2 linked regions of the Homo sapiens genome follow. The protein of the gene in region 2 interacts with the protein of the main gene of each other region in a pairwise test. Each region holds a gene or a part of one and is shown on either strand. Other genes may lie near its edges. The genes, in order: MAGEC3 and GPC5.

Region 1 (7,301 bases), on a different chromosome or scaffold from region 2:
GATTATTTCATCACCCAGGTAATATGTATAATAACTATAGATAGCTTTTTGATCAAGTACTAGGGACTATCAAGAATGTAAAATACGGCAATATGTTTGCGAATGTCATGAGATTTAACTCAGGTGGTCAGGAAATTCCTCTTTAAGAAGATGCAATTTGTTTGGAGACCTGAAATATCCAAAAGGAGTCTTTGGATTTGATAATTAAAATGGCTTTGATGGTCTTGCAAAGTACAGCTTTATTTGAGTGGTAGAGACAGGAGTCAGAGAGCACCAGGTTGAAGAAAGAGTGACTGGTAAGTAAGAAGAGACAGACAAGAAGCTTCACTCTTGTGAGGCTTAAGTGGAAAGAAAAGAAGAAAGAAGAAAAGAAGTGAGAAGGAAAAGCAGAGTGAAGTTATTATCACATTATTTTTTACAATTCACCTTTAAAGTGGTTCCTGATGCTTCCTCTTACTTAAATTTTTATTTAATATTAAACATATTTATAAACTATAGTTAATTAGCCAGTAGAAAGGCAGATGTTGAAAATACAGAAAAAAAAAGAAGCAGTGGAGCAAGGTCCATTCTCAATCCCCTTGAATAGAACAATTTATTCATTAACTATTTACTGAGCATTTTTGTGTTTGTTTTGTTTTTGTTCTTGTGGGGTTTTTTTTTTTGATGTGAAAAACACACAAAAGCATAACTACCCACTGACCAATTTTGCAGGAGGACTCATGCTAATGCTAATACATCAGGCTGAATTTTAGACAGAATGGTTGAAGAAAATAAATGCTGAACAGTCCACTTTAATATGGCAATTTAGTGAGGAGAGGCACTCTCTCCCATTTAGAGACACAAGAAAATATTGCTTCTGTGAAAATCTTCTTAACATGGAGATGTTAGTAATGATGCCAAATTTATGAAATGTTCTTAAAGAGGTCTGAACAAAGTTTGCTACATAGAACAAATTCAAAATAATATGTAATTATATGTTTTTCCAATATCATATACTTTTGAAAAATGCAAAATCTTGTGCTAAATGTAACTTTCACTTTCTTAAATCACTTTTATGTCAATATTCTTATGAAAATATTTCTTAAAATTAAATGATATTTTATGACCTGATATTCTCTACTTGTCATTTATTTAGATTGCAAGCTAAAAACTAATTAGAAAGACTATACTTTTGCTGTTAACTTTCTCAGAGGTAAAATATCACTTTTCTTTAGTGGTTTGTGATGCTATGAATGAATACTTTCCAGGTTGGGTATTTCCTGGCTGTTAAATATCAGTTAAGTTTTGGCTGACTTCACCTCCATCTATCAACCTCCCTGCCAATCATTTAACAGCTATAGAATAGGTCTCCTCACACAAATCCTTCAGGAAGAATTTCCATTGTGCACATTCTGACCAGAAGAAAAAATGCAGCAAATTTTTGGAAAGTGAATCATTTTTAGAGTTCTGAGCAAATTATGTTAAACTCAGGGTTTCTCACTGTCAGCACCATCACATTTTAGGCAGTATAATTCTTTCTTGTGTGAGGTCGTCCTTTGTCCAATAAGACGCTTAGAAGCATCTCTGTCTCTGCTTATTAAATACCAGTAGCATTCCCTGCTGCCACCAATTATGACAACCAACAATATTTCTAGATATTGGCAAGTATCCCCTAAGTGGCAAAATCTCTTCCAGTTAAGAACCACTGAGTTAAGAACAGTAAGTAATGATCCAGGGAAAATGGATATAAAGATATTAAAAAGCTAGTAAAGCATTTGACATATTAGAAATGCATATAAACAATTCATATTTATAAAATAAAATCTACTGAAGATATAATGAATAAACACTTGTTTTGGTGAGCAAGCTTGGGATTGCAGCTGTGGGCCTGGAAGTGGTAGGAGCTGCAAAGCCTGCCCAGGATTAGCTGTAGCCAGAGCCGGCAGCCAAGACAATAGCAAAGATCAATTTGACCTCAAGATATAATCAAATATGACAGCAGAGTGAATGAAGCTTTTATTTTGCTCCGTTCTTCTCCATAATCCTTCTTATGCCCATAATCATTATAATTACATAAAATATTTAAAAACCTTTAAAAATTATTTCTTGGAAACCATGAATATGGCAGACTAGAGGCATTTTGTACTCACTTTCTCCATTAAAAATAACCAAACGGTGAGTCGATAATCACACTTTGAATATATAATTCAAAGGAAATCACTGGAATCCATTAGAAAAGTGATAGGCAATACTTAAAGCAGAGATGGAGAGGGAATCAAGGCAGCCTGCTCATCCAGGATCAGCTGTGAGCTGAGAGACTCCAAATACAGAGAAAGGATAGGTGAGAGAGCCTCAGTAGTTTACATTCTCACTATAGACTCCTATAATCCCAGCCACAGGAGATCCCTTCAACCATCATGGGCCCCGAAACTAACATAGAAAGCTGCCAGGAGATTGTATGATGGCACTGCTTCAGGGAGAAAGCTCCCGCTGGGTCCCTCACACTTCTTGAGACTTAAGCAGCTACAACAAAGTACCATTTTAGAGCCCTGCCCTCAACAGACTGAGCACTGTCCTGGAGCCCAGTAGCCCAGGGCTGAGGTGCAAGAGAAGCACGAACTGCTGCCCCAGGGACATAGGCATCAGTGACTACAGACTACAGCATCTGGTGCAGAGGTGGGACGAAGGCGTGGGCTGCTGCTTTTAGGACTGAGGCACAAATGAGGCACCACTGCAGAGCCTCACCCCCGATGAACTACATACTGTCCTGGAGCCCAGTGGCATTGAGGCCTAGGTGCAAACTAAATGTCTGATGTTTCCCTGGAGATTCAGACATGAGCGACCACAGGCTACTGCAACCAAGGGAAAGACATGAACATCAAGGCTGGGCAAGATAGCATCTTAGAGCCTCACCCCCAACAGACTGCACACTGTCTTGGAGCCAAGCAACACTGAGGCTGAGATGCAAAAGAAGAGCTGGCTGTTAACCTGGGGCTTAGACATGAGCATTCATGGGCTACCACACCTGGGGCTGAGGTGGGAGCACCACTGGGGATAAGGCATATGTGGCACATGTGTTTTTCACCCACTGGCCTAGACTGCCATCACTGAAGGTGGCATCCAACACCCAGTGGCAGGGCAGCAGCATGGCCACTGCCACCCTGTCTTTACCAAAGAGATAGAGACCATAAAAAAGGAACGAACAGAAATTCTGGAGCCAAAGAATGCAGTGAATAAACTAAAAAATACACATGAAAGCTTCAACAATATACTCAATCATAACTGACTTATGTTAAGATCACATTTTGCTTGAAGACAGTTTTTTTTGAAATAACGCTGTCAGACAAAAATAAAGAAAAAAAGAAAATAATAAAATAAACCTTTGGAATCTATCTAACAACATAAAGTGACCAAATATAAAAATCACTGATAGCCCAGAAGGCAAAGAGAGAAAACATGTTTTCAAAGACCTATTTATTGAAATAATAGATGACACTTCCTAAGTCGAGCAAGACACTTAGACATTGAGATACAGGAGGCCCATCAATTCCTAAACAGATACAATGTGAAAAGGTCTCTTCCATAGCACATTACAGACAAAATATTTAAAGTTTTTTTTTTCTTTTTTTCCAAGATGGCAGATTGGAAGCATTATAAGCATACTTATCCCACTTGGTAAGACAAAATGGCATGTAGAGATTCATGCTGTAAAATTTATTCGAAGAAACAATGTAAGAACTTAACAGAAAAACTGAAAGAAACCACAGACCCTTTGAATGAAGTGGCAGGCAACAGACTACATCATAAAACAGATGGAAAACCATTAGTCCCCAGAGCATGAGAGAGGGATAGATTGCTGTCATGACATATACTCCCACAGGCGAGCCAGGCAATACAAGTCATGAGGGAGGACTTCAAACCTACTCAGCTCTAGAGGTGATTCAGTGAAAAGTAAGGAATATATAAGAAGGAGCAGCATCGGGACATGCTTTGTGTGCAGACCCAGATTCCAGCAAGAATGGAGGGAAGCCATTCCTGATCCCACCTCACGGGACGTTGCAGAAGTCTAACTCAGGCTGCAGTCACAGTTTGAGAGAAGAGCCCAACTGGGATTTGTGATATAATCCTTAGTAAGGACAAAGCTGATTGGCCAGAACCGAGGGGCAAGTGAGAAGTGTGCTACGGCAACAAGGCACATGAGCTGCATGGCCCTGCTTCACAGGTGGACTGGAAAGGATGCAGCCTGAAAGATATGGTTTCTGTGTCCATAGGGAAAGCTTATGGCCTGGGATGGTTTTAAATTCTGAGCACGGGCCACTTGAAACCCAGTTAGCTGCTGCTGCTAGCAGAACACTGTGGGTATGAAAACTGACTTGCCAAGTGTGTGGGAGCTGAGTGGGGCTTATTACAACCTGCTGCCTCCCACTTTTCAGGCAGATTTTTTGTGCAGCAGAGGCAGCTGTGTTCCTGCCTGGAACATTACCCCACCAGCCAGGGAACTGCCCTCGGATCCCCACTGGGGCCACTGCTTGCACCTGCACATGGGGAGCCAGAGTGCAGACTTGCCTGACTCAGTTTAATAACTTCTGAGGCACAATGAAATCATCCCAATGCCTCCATGTTCAATTTCAGGCACTAACAAGTCCCTGAGGTATTAAATGCATTGCTTTTCTGCGGTCTTGCCACCTTCAGGAGCTTACTAAGAAAATGAAGAAGAGCCACGATCACTCCTCTCAATTAGCCTCTTCCCTTGGCTGAGAAATGTGTTTCCGGTCTTGAGAACACAGAAGTTTTGCATTTGCTCATGAGAGATCTGAAACCTTCTGACACTGCCCTGCATCTTTTCCATTCCCTCTAAATAGAGAAGACTCTTCTCCTGTCTCCTACCTTCTGCTCTGACATCCATTCACTAACACCTAGGCACAAAAAGCCTAGTTCACCCAATGGCAGAAACGGCTAAGGTGGGCCTCTTCCAAGCTATGAACAACATTTCAAAGCTTAAGTCCCTACCCTCTTCCAACACAATGTCCTTTTCATTCCTCTAGCTCAGTAGTGCTCAGATTGGGGGTGATTTTGCACCCCATCCCAAGAAGACATTTTGCAGTCTGGAAATATTTTTGGTTGTCACAACTGGGATGGCTCTTGGTGCTATCGGCATCTATTGAATAGAAACTAGGAATGCTGCTAATCATTCTAAATTCAGCAAGATGACACCCCCTCAAAAAAGCCCACAGAACTATCTGTCTCAAAATGTCAATAGTAATAAAGGTGAAAAACCCTGTAGCTCATTCCTTAATAGGCCACCCAAAGAGATTTTGGATGTTTTCATTTATAAAATTATGCATATATTTTGGCAAATCAACAGCTGTTTCTCACCACTGATGGTTAGACAAGGGAAAGAATAAGGAGACTGATATTATAATGAGCTCATTCTATGCCAGGTACAGTGCTCAATACTTCAGATTTATATTATCACATTTAATCTGTTAAAAATGTCCCAACATGTAGTAACAAGAGTTATTTTTATTTTACAAAGTTAAAAGAAAACTGAATTTTGAACAAATTGAAAGATCGATTCAGATTACAGCATCTGTAAATGGCAGAGCAGAAACTTACTATTAATGATCGCATGGCTTCAGAGCTGATGCCAGCCATCTCAATCTCACAAAGATCTCCGCATTCACTCATCTTTTACCCTCAAGCATTGTCTTACGTAGACATTCCTGACTTATTCCAATGGAAAGTCAAAAACAGAAATTTGATATTCAACAAGGAATATTATGTAGGATTTTGCTGTTGTTTCCTGAAAATTTTTCAATATACTGAATAAGCTATGGGAAAGCAAGCGGAAATAGTGTTGGCTTATAAAACCTCTCACCCTGTGACTAACCAAAATGAACAGAAAGGATTCATCAATGCTGAAACTTGAAACAAAACTGAGTCTTAATCAATATAATTCTTGAGGTATGATTCAGATCCAGTATAATTTGGCCCAGATTGAAAGAAGACTCAAAAATCAATATATAACCCCTATCACTACCTTGGTCCAGATATTCCAATTTGAAGAAGCAAGGAAATTAGACTTGAGCAGATCTGGAGGAAGTGTAGGCTGCACTGTGTGGAGCTTGTTTCTCCACTGCAAATAAGCATTCCTGAGAAACTAAATGCTGGACAAGATGCAAAGCCATACAACCGATGTGATTGCCTCCCTAACTACCTGCCAACCTGTAGTTTATCTTCCTTCTAAACAGACAGAATATCAGAGAGAAGTAGAAGCAATCTCTTGAGAATCATAGCCACAGCCTTCTGCACAGAAAAATACATAGGGTCAAACAAAACAAAAACCTCAACAACCCTGGACTTTTTATGAAAATGAATTTCTCACTTTGAGAGGGAGTAAACTGAAACACAAAAAGGCCATTCTTCACCAACAGATGAGAGCATGCCCCCAACACGGTGCTGCTGATGCCAGTGCATAGGAGCCAAAAAATCAAACTGAGCAACTAAGAAACAAACCAACAACTAAGAAAAAAACTTCCTGACTGCAACTACTCACAGCCCCAGATATCTCCTCACTGTCCCCCAAGCCCCCTGTTCCCATAAAGGAGCTAAATGACTGAACAAAGAATAAAAACAATAAATGTGCAAATTGTTCGGTGCATGTTTCAAGGCATTGGTCCAAAAAAATATGCAGACCAGTTCTGGAAGTTGGGCTAAAAAAGACAGATTCTGAAGCTGCAACTGGAAGATTTCTTTAGTAGGTCTGGAGGGGTGATTGATGCTCTGTACTTTTTCACATCCATGTTTGAGAACCACTGTTCAAAGTGGAGAGAGAGGGTTAAGTCAAAGATTTTCCTAGAACAGAGATATCAAGGAAAACGTATTCATCTATTTTTGGCAGTGGGGACAATCCATGGCCCCAATTCAAAATAAACGAGAAGAAAAACAAATAATAACAGCATAGCACCAATATGTAAAATGCTCTATAACATAGAAGGGAAGAGAACAGGAATACAGCAAGCAAAGACAACTAGCTAAGTAGTATTTGTTGCCAGGTTCTGCAGTAGTGGCTGAAGAACAAAAGTGACCACAGATATTTAACAAGTGGAGAAACTAAAAAATAACTCTAAAATCAATAGGAAACAATAAGGAACATAATCAACCCTATAAAAAATTTAGTAATTTAAAGTATAGGCTTGGGAAACATTAAAACTACACAGGAAATGAAGAGATTTTATAAATATATAGATGTATTCATAAAAACATATTTTCATAAATATGTGAAAACAGATCCAACGTTAGGATCACTGTTTTGGAATTAG
Region 2 (8,080 bases):
GGAGCAGGGTAGAGAACAAAGGTGAGGGGAATCTGAGAAACAGTTTAAATCACTGCTCTCACAATTTTAATAATTTCAATTTGGATAACATTTTTATCAGAAAAAGTAAAAGTCACAAAGGTAGGAAGAAACTAAAAACTTATTCTACCTGCTTATATTATACAAACTGTGTTTTGGCTAGACATCTCAGGGATTAACCACTGTGAACAAGAAATGCAAGAAAGCAGTAAAAATACGTACTTCCAAAAACAAAATCAAATTAAATGTGTTTGTTTTAGTCAGTGAAAGGGTATGTGCTAAATGAATAGATTTGTTAAAAGATATTACTATTTGTATTCTCATGGAGAAATGACTAAATTATGTTCTCTCTTGAGATTGAGGATAATCTTAGAAAATATGATAGTCAATTACCATATTCAATCATGTTAAATGTTGTAGATCATATATAAATACAAAAAGAAAGAAAATTATTTATTAAGCATGTGGTATGTTTGGTTTACTCAATTTGGGATTGAGGGGTTTTTTTTTTTAGAGAGATGAGAGGAATCAGTGTTTAAAAAAGTTTAATATTTTGCTGAATTATTTGTAAAAGAATGACCAACAATACAGACACAAAACTTCAGAATTATATCAAATTCCTATATGAATGCCTTTTTTGGGGGGTGGATCTAAATCAGCATAGCACTTTTGTGTGACTTTTTCTTAGTGAAAATATTAAAGGAACTTAGCATTTCTTTTCACCAGTACCACTGATGTCTCTAAGCCTCTTCTGTGAGTGCTCCCGTGATTCCTCCATCACCTTCAGCCACAGATTTAAAAAATCTACTAGCAATGGGGAAACAATCCAGAGTGACTTAGAAAAGAAAGATTCCTTGTCGTCATGGAACTTTTTTGTGTGTCATGTGTATCAAATGCAAATAATTACAGTCATTTCCCTCTCCTTAGGACAGAGCTTTAGTTTTCCCTGACATCCTGGTAAGACACTGTCTCAGTGACTGATACTCTGGAAAGTTCATCTTTAAAAGAGATGAACACCCAATCAATGTGTTGCATTCAGCAGATACCAGAAATACTGAGATACCAGAGTGGAGTGAAATCAGGGCCTTACTGGGGAGAAGGGGCTGGCCATCAACATTCGGTGAACATAGCAGGCAAAGTTACCATATTTGGGGACTAAAAATCTAATAATTCAGGTAAAGATCTCACATCATAACACCCTCACCACCCACACGCACAAACTCACTTTAGTTTTATCAGCAGCCAATAAAGTGAGATTTATTTCCTAATGAAAAGAATGCACTAAGAAAAATACAGATCTATAAGGCGATATTTTATTTGGGGATAGAAGAATCGCCCTAAACTGAGAATGTCAACTTTGTTTCAAGTAATACAGAAAAAGCACCTAGTACCAAACAGGTATACAAAGAAATAGCTGGGTTTAAGACTGGTCATGTAAACTCAAATGGAGTCAGTGTTCCCGAATGCCTAGATTTTCTTTCTGGGATGACTTAAAATTGAGCAAAGCAATCAAGAAAAGCGGCTACAGCTCACACTTCCTCATTGCTACAAGCAAGTCCCCCAACCCTGGAAACTCGGGACTTTAGACTTAAGCGTCCTCCACAAGTTCTTTGTTCAACCAGTAACCTCACAGATTCGTCTGTGTTGGCTTCATAGTCACAGCTAAAGGGGTGCATGGCTCTAGTGAGATCTTACTTAGCTCTAGACACCTGCTATTGCGTTTGACAGCTATGACCTATTCTTCCAGACAGAACCTACACTGGAACTCCCACCAGCAGAAGGAAATTGGTGCGGTGGAAACGGGGAGCAGGGTTCGAAAGCACAGGCAAAAGGCGCTCACAGGAAGCAAGATCCACGCTGGCCACACAAACTGTATCTTTCCCTTTGGAACGCTGGTACATCTCATCCATGTCAAGTGACTCCCCAGTACGTTCGGTTTGATCGCCTGTTGCCCTAACACTTTTCAGGCTAAAAACTACCTTGGTGCTGGGAGACACACTGGGTGGTTGGGTTTCCTCCAAGCAGGGCTTGATACGAGGGCACAGAAGGGCAGCTAAGGGTCACGTCTCTGGGTGCACAGGGTCCAAGTCCTAATTACAGAGGAGACCGGCTGCCCTTGTCTGTGCCCCATTCTCCAGCAAAGGGGTATATCGCAGGTTTGTGATTTTTAGTACCAAACTTGGGGCGATCAATTCAATTCCCTCCACCTTATGAGAAAGCAGTAAACCGAAATCCCCGGTGGGGCACTGGGGAAATTCCTACTCGGAAGAGAAACGGAGTTAGACTGCGTGTCCCCCACGCCCTGATGTCTGCTTTCCTGGTTCCTTCCAACTCATCCTCCAAGACGAAGGGAGCCGGGCGGGAAGCAGATGCCCAGAACGGGGATTCGTCGCAGGCTTGGTTAGGGGTCCCCAGAGCTGCGCTGCGCTGCACTCAGGCTACCCGCACCAAGCATCCCCGGAAGCCTCCCCGGGATTCACCCTGCGCGGCTGCAGGGCCCGAAAGGTCATCTTCCCACGAGTGCCACCAAGGGAGCCTGGGGGAGCGAAGGCCGGGCTCGGACGCCGCCAGTCCAGAGACCCCCTCATTGCCCCTTACCTGCCCGCGGCGAATCCGGCAGCCCCCTGACAGCTCCCAGCAGCCGCCACTGGAAAAGTTTCCGAACTTCTTCGCAGGTCTGCACGCCCTCGCTGCGGGCGGACCCAACCAGGGCCAGAAGGAGGAGGCAGCGAAAGCCCACGGGCCAGGTCTGTGCGTCCATCCTCGCCGTCCTGGTCCCCTTTACCCGCCAGTGGACCCCACTCGCCCTGCGCGCCCTGGCTGAGCTGCAGACGTGGAAGACACAGCGGCCGAGGCTCTCGAGCGGTGCGAGCCGGCTGCGGGGTGTACGGACCGCCCGCGGGCACCGGCTTCACCTGGGAGCAGTTAGCTCTTCCCGGAGGAGGCCCTAAGCTGAGACACCAGAGTTTTCCAGCTGAGCACCCTCTGGTCTTCTTCCCTAGCCGAGAAGAGTGGGCGGCTGGGCGGGGCGAAGAAAACTAGTGGAGCCGCAGGGAGCCCGCAAGCATCCGCTCTGGCCACCACTGCTGCAACTGCTGCCGCTGCCGCCACTGCCGCCACTGCCGCCACTGCCGCCGCCGCCGCCGCCTCCGCCGCCCGGCTCGGCTCGCAGCAGCTAACCTGGGATGTGCCCGCTCGCTGCGCTCCGCGGAAGCCCCGCCCCGCACTCCCCGCCCCGCGGACAGGCCACGCCCCTGCCACGCCCCCGGCGCGCTGTCCCGCTCCGCACCCACTAAGATGCTGTCATACGCGGCCCAGTGCTGAAGACTCGGAGCGACATCGATGCAAATAAATAGAAGGAAACCCGGACCTCGCTCTCCCAGTCCGTTCTGGGGAAGAATCATCTGATAAAAACAGAGAATGTATAAATAGGGTCAGAGAAGACAAGAGATGAGAAACACCAACTGGAACTAAGAAATATCTCATCTATGTAATCAAGGTCCTCAGTACATAGGAATTTGTATTCTAATTGCATTAAATAGGATCTGGACATAATACAAAAGGCAAAAACTATTTACGGTTAAAGATCTCAATTGAGAGACTTCATAACACTTAGGTTGTTAAAGAGTGCACATGAGAAGTTATTTTTTAAAATGGCTTTGTTTTACTGCTTAGGAACATTTTTCTATAACATGATTTTCTGAAAGGAGGTATAAGAATTACAATCAAACTTTATCACATTCTTATCACAATGAAATCTAGTTTTAAGTCTCTTATCACCATTTAGCATCATATTTTACTTCAGCACTTTGTATTTGTGGGGCTCCTCTGAGCTTTACCACTTCTGGAATTTCTTTAAAATATTTTTCAGAGAGCAATTAAGTTAAGAGTGCTCAGGGGAGTTCCTTACAAGGAATATAGAAAAATAAATACTTTAAGCAATTTTAAAATGGCAAAGGAATTTTGTCAATTTACAGTTTATGAGAGGAATGCATTACGCACCATAAACCAAAGGGCAGGTGCATTTTTTAAATGTGGTTGACTCAACAACTAAGCCTGTAAGAGTGTCTCAATCTACAGCCACTTGAAGAGAGTACTCCTTCTGTAAAATAAACTAGTTAAAAGCATCAGGCAGAGGGGACAATGAATGCTTTAACCACTTTAAGGAATTTCATCTCAAATTTGAACCCTTACCAAGAGATAGTAGTGAAAAACTTTATGTCTTAGTGAAGATTTTTAATGAACATTTAATATCAAAGGCAGCACTTTCAGCAGTATATCACTTGCTTTAAAACCATTCCAGGGCAATGGCTGAAACACTGCTTCAGAGTGAAATCATGCTACTTGGTGTTTGGCATCAGTTTTCTGAATATGAGATTTTGTTTCAAAGGGCAGTGCTCTTCATGAATCTCTTCTGCTCTAACCACCAAGTATGGAAAGATTGTCTGGAAGCCACCTATATCTATGAAAAGAAACAAGAAAAACCATGAGAATGTATATAGTGCTTATGGGCCAGATAATATTCTAAGTATTTTATGGAAATGAATTCACTCATGTAATCTTTATAACAACCTTATAAAGTAGTTACTACTATTATCATTGTTTTACAGATGAGGAAACAGGAACACAGAGGTGAAGTGACTTACTGAATGCCTAAGGTAAGTGACAAAGCCAGAAATCAAACTGAGGCTTCCAAATCCAGACCGCATGCTCTTCTCCAGAGGCTCTCCTTGACTATTCTGTGGTACAGAAAAACCCATCAGGTTTCACCAAAGGCCTTTGGGCAGCAACACCAAGGGCTGTTTATTCATTTAGCAGATTTTTTACTAGTAAATATGCATAATTTCTATCTATATAACTGTATTCTACTGGAATTATGTGTATCTCTATATAAGGCTAATAAATTCCCAAGTTTTTCTAAAACATCTTTATTGTTACCAAGATCTCTCCTTGATAGATTTGATCATCTTAGACTCTTAGCATCAAAAAGATCCTTAAATTACCATCTATCCCATTAACTGGAATCTCTAAAACGGTGTGTCTTGCAAGGATAAAAATCATAAACACAACTGAGTATTGATGGTTCAGTAAAAGCTAATTGACTAATACATATTGGTTGAAAACATACAATTTTTTTAACCGCTATTCTAGGCTTAACAGGAGTTTAAAGAGACACACAAGCAAGTTTTCTCAGTGATTTTATAAGTTAACAAAACAGGTGGGAGGTCATTTATAGAAATGCCATAGGAACTAACAAGAATATATTTAGTCTGTATAAAATATCCCCATTAACAAAAAATAAATATATTTTCCTTCTACCTCTTATCCATAACTGCTAGCAAAGTGGATGAGCCAGCATGTGGCCTGGAAGGGCATCTTGTCCTATTAGCATCCCTAAGCCCACCACGCAAGGCAACAGTATGCCTGCTACTGAAGCTACCAAGCTTCAAGACAAGTTTTCTAGTTCCACCCAGAACACAATGCCACGATCCCTTTTATAAGAACATTCTAGAGCAACCTCTGCAAATTATACCATAACTAGCCTTTTATTCAATTTACTGGTAAACATTACAAATGAAGCTAGGGAAAACTGTCCATAATTTGATAGTTATAATGCCTTATTTTACAAAATGTATTTAAAAAATGTATTGAATGTCTTTTATATAATAGGCATTGCGCTTTGCTTTCAAAATACCAATACCCTTGGATAGGAGAATCCTTAAATGGTCATTATTTAAAATACAGCTTAGTAATATTCTAAATCCAAAACTTCCCTGATACTTTCTATGTAACTGTTTATATGTTTATAGTTTGTCAACTTAGGACCTTGTAAAGAGAAATAAAAAACCTCGGCCGGGTGCGGTGGTTCACGCCTGTAATCCCAGCACTTTGGGAGGCTGAGGCGGGTGGATCACGAGGTCAGGAGATCGAGAGCATCTGGCCAACATGGTGAAACTCCATCTCTACTAAAAATATGAAAATTAGGTGGGTGTGGTGGCCCATGCCTGTAATCCCAGCTACTCAAGAGGCTGAGGCAGGAGAATCGCTTGAACCCAGGAGGCAGAGATTGCAGTGAGCCCAGATCGTGCCACAGGACTCCAGCCTGGGGGACAGAGTGAGACTCCATCTCACAAAAAAAAAGAAAGAAAGAAAACCTCCAGTGTGGTTTAGGTGATTTAATGATATCACAGAGTCTTCAACCCTGACTATTCTTTTAGGCTAAGACTGGCCACTAATTAGTTTACCCTCAGAAGCTGATTTGGGTAACTTTTATACCCAGTCAATGACAAGAGCTAAGATTTATTAAGCACTTACAGATATTATCTCATTTAACATTTCAACCATTCCATGAGACAGTTACTATTATACTACTGAGAAAACTGAAGTACAAAGAGATTAAATAACCTTCCAGAAATCCTGATAAGAGCCCAAATGCAAGCCAGGCTTCATAACTTTTGTACCCCTTTAGTCACTACACTCGCCTGCCTGAAAAGCCAGACACCTGGTTTGTGGCCCCTTGAACTCAACCTATCATATAAATATAAACTCTGGTACTCACAGCTATCCATGTGGACAACCTGCTGAACACCTTGGTTATAGTGGTCCAGAGCTCTGCATTGGCTTCAACGATGGCCTGATAGTACCTCACTGACGTGGGGCTGGCCAAGGTACTACCTGCTCCTACTTCCTACCTCCACTAAGCTTTTAACTAGGAGAACTGTTTTGCAAGCACTAAAATCCCACGAACTGCCTTGACATCTTTGAGCCTCACAGGTCCCTAGTCATGAGTTCTCCTGCTCTGGCCAGATATGCCCCCCACCCAGATGGAAAGTCTTGCTTGCTGGCTACCTCCCTTAGCTGGACCAGCTCCATCCCACCCTGTCTTCAACCTAATGGCTTTCACCTCCCTTCAGAGCAATTAGTCCAACAAGATAATCACATCCTCCTGTGGGAACCAAGGGGTCCTCCCCACAACACACCATCTTCTTGTTACTACAAAGCTTGCCTCCCACAACTCCTGCAGGTTCACTCTGCTCCCAAATGAAGCCCCTCCTCCCCTGTATGGCCCTGCATGGCATGTGGTAGCCTCCTCCCCTGGGCTATGAGTATGTGTGACTAACAAACTGCTGTAAATCTCATCTGTCCAGTCTTGTGTGTTTGATCATCTCGTATAATTTACAAAGGGGGATCCCTCTTTCATCAACTGGGTGAAAAGGAGGTTGTCAGAGAAAGAATATCCTTAATACAAATAACTTCCACTTCATTATTTCCAAAAAAGTGCTGACTTTTGTCTTGCCCTACCTTCTCTCTCCCTCCGATGTAGGCTCTAAGCCGTTGGTTGCACAATAAAGAGAACCAAGTTGGATGTCAGCCCGAGCTGCCCCAGTAATGAATTTCTGCCACCAAGTAACCAGGAGAAAATTGAGTGATACTCCCCTGAAATCTCCTCTAGTGAAGATAGTAATGGTTCTGTTAAAAAAAAAAAAAATCACCACCGGGCACAGTAGCTCTCGCCCGTAATCTCAGCACTTTGGGAGGCTAAGGCAGGAGGATCACTTGAGCCCAGGAGTTTGAGACCAGCCTGGGCAACATAGGGAAACTCTGTCTCTACAAAAATTCCAAAAAAATGGCCAGGCATAATGGCACATGCCTGTAAGCCCCAGCAGCTTGGGAGGCTAAAGTAGGAGGATCACTTGAGCCCAGCAGGTTGAGGCTGCAGTGAGCCATGTTCGCACCACTGCATTCCAGCCTGGGTAACAGCGTGAGACCCTGTCTCAAAAGAAACGAAAAAAGAAGAGAGGAGAGGTGAGGCGAGGTAAGGCGAGGCGAGGAGAGGAGAGGAGAAGGCAAGGCTGCCTAAAGGAGAGACTACACAGCAAATAAAATATTACATAAAATACTCAAAACCAGACACCAAACTGAAATTAACATGACAGTCAGTGGGAATCTTTGATCAGCAAACATTTTCAAAAATCACACACACACACACACACACGTGTCAGTATACCACTAATGTGTATATATATACACACACATGTGTGTCTGTATACCACTAATCTAT

The links.
Region 1: the proteins of GPC5 (region 2) and MAGEC3 interact in binary tests that used the Homo sapiens proteins (3 or more experiments, as listed by UniProt).

Annotation. Positions count from the first base shown.
Region 1 is NC_000023.11:141,834,142-141,841,442, reverse strand, and holds the start of MAGEC3 (melanoma-associated antigen C3), read right to left. Parts: upstream 3,128-7,301; coding exon 3,005-3,127; intron 1-3,004.
Region 2 is NC_000013.11:91,393,746-91,401,825, reverse strand, and holds the start of GPC5 (glypican-5 precursor), read right to left. Parts: upstream 3,206-8,080; 5' UTR 2,780-3,205; coding exon 2,617-2,779; intron 1-2,616. UniProt on the Homo sapiens protein: Cell surface proteoglycan that bears heparan sulfate.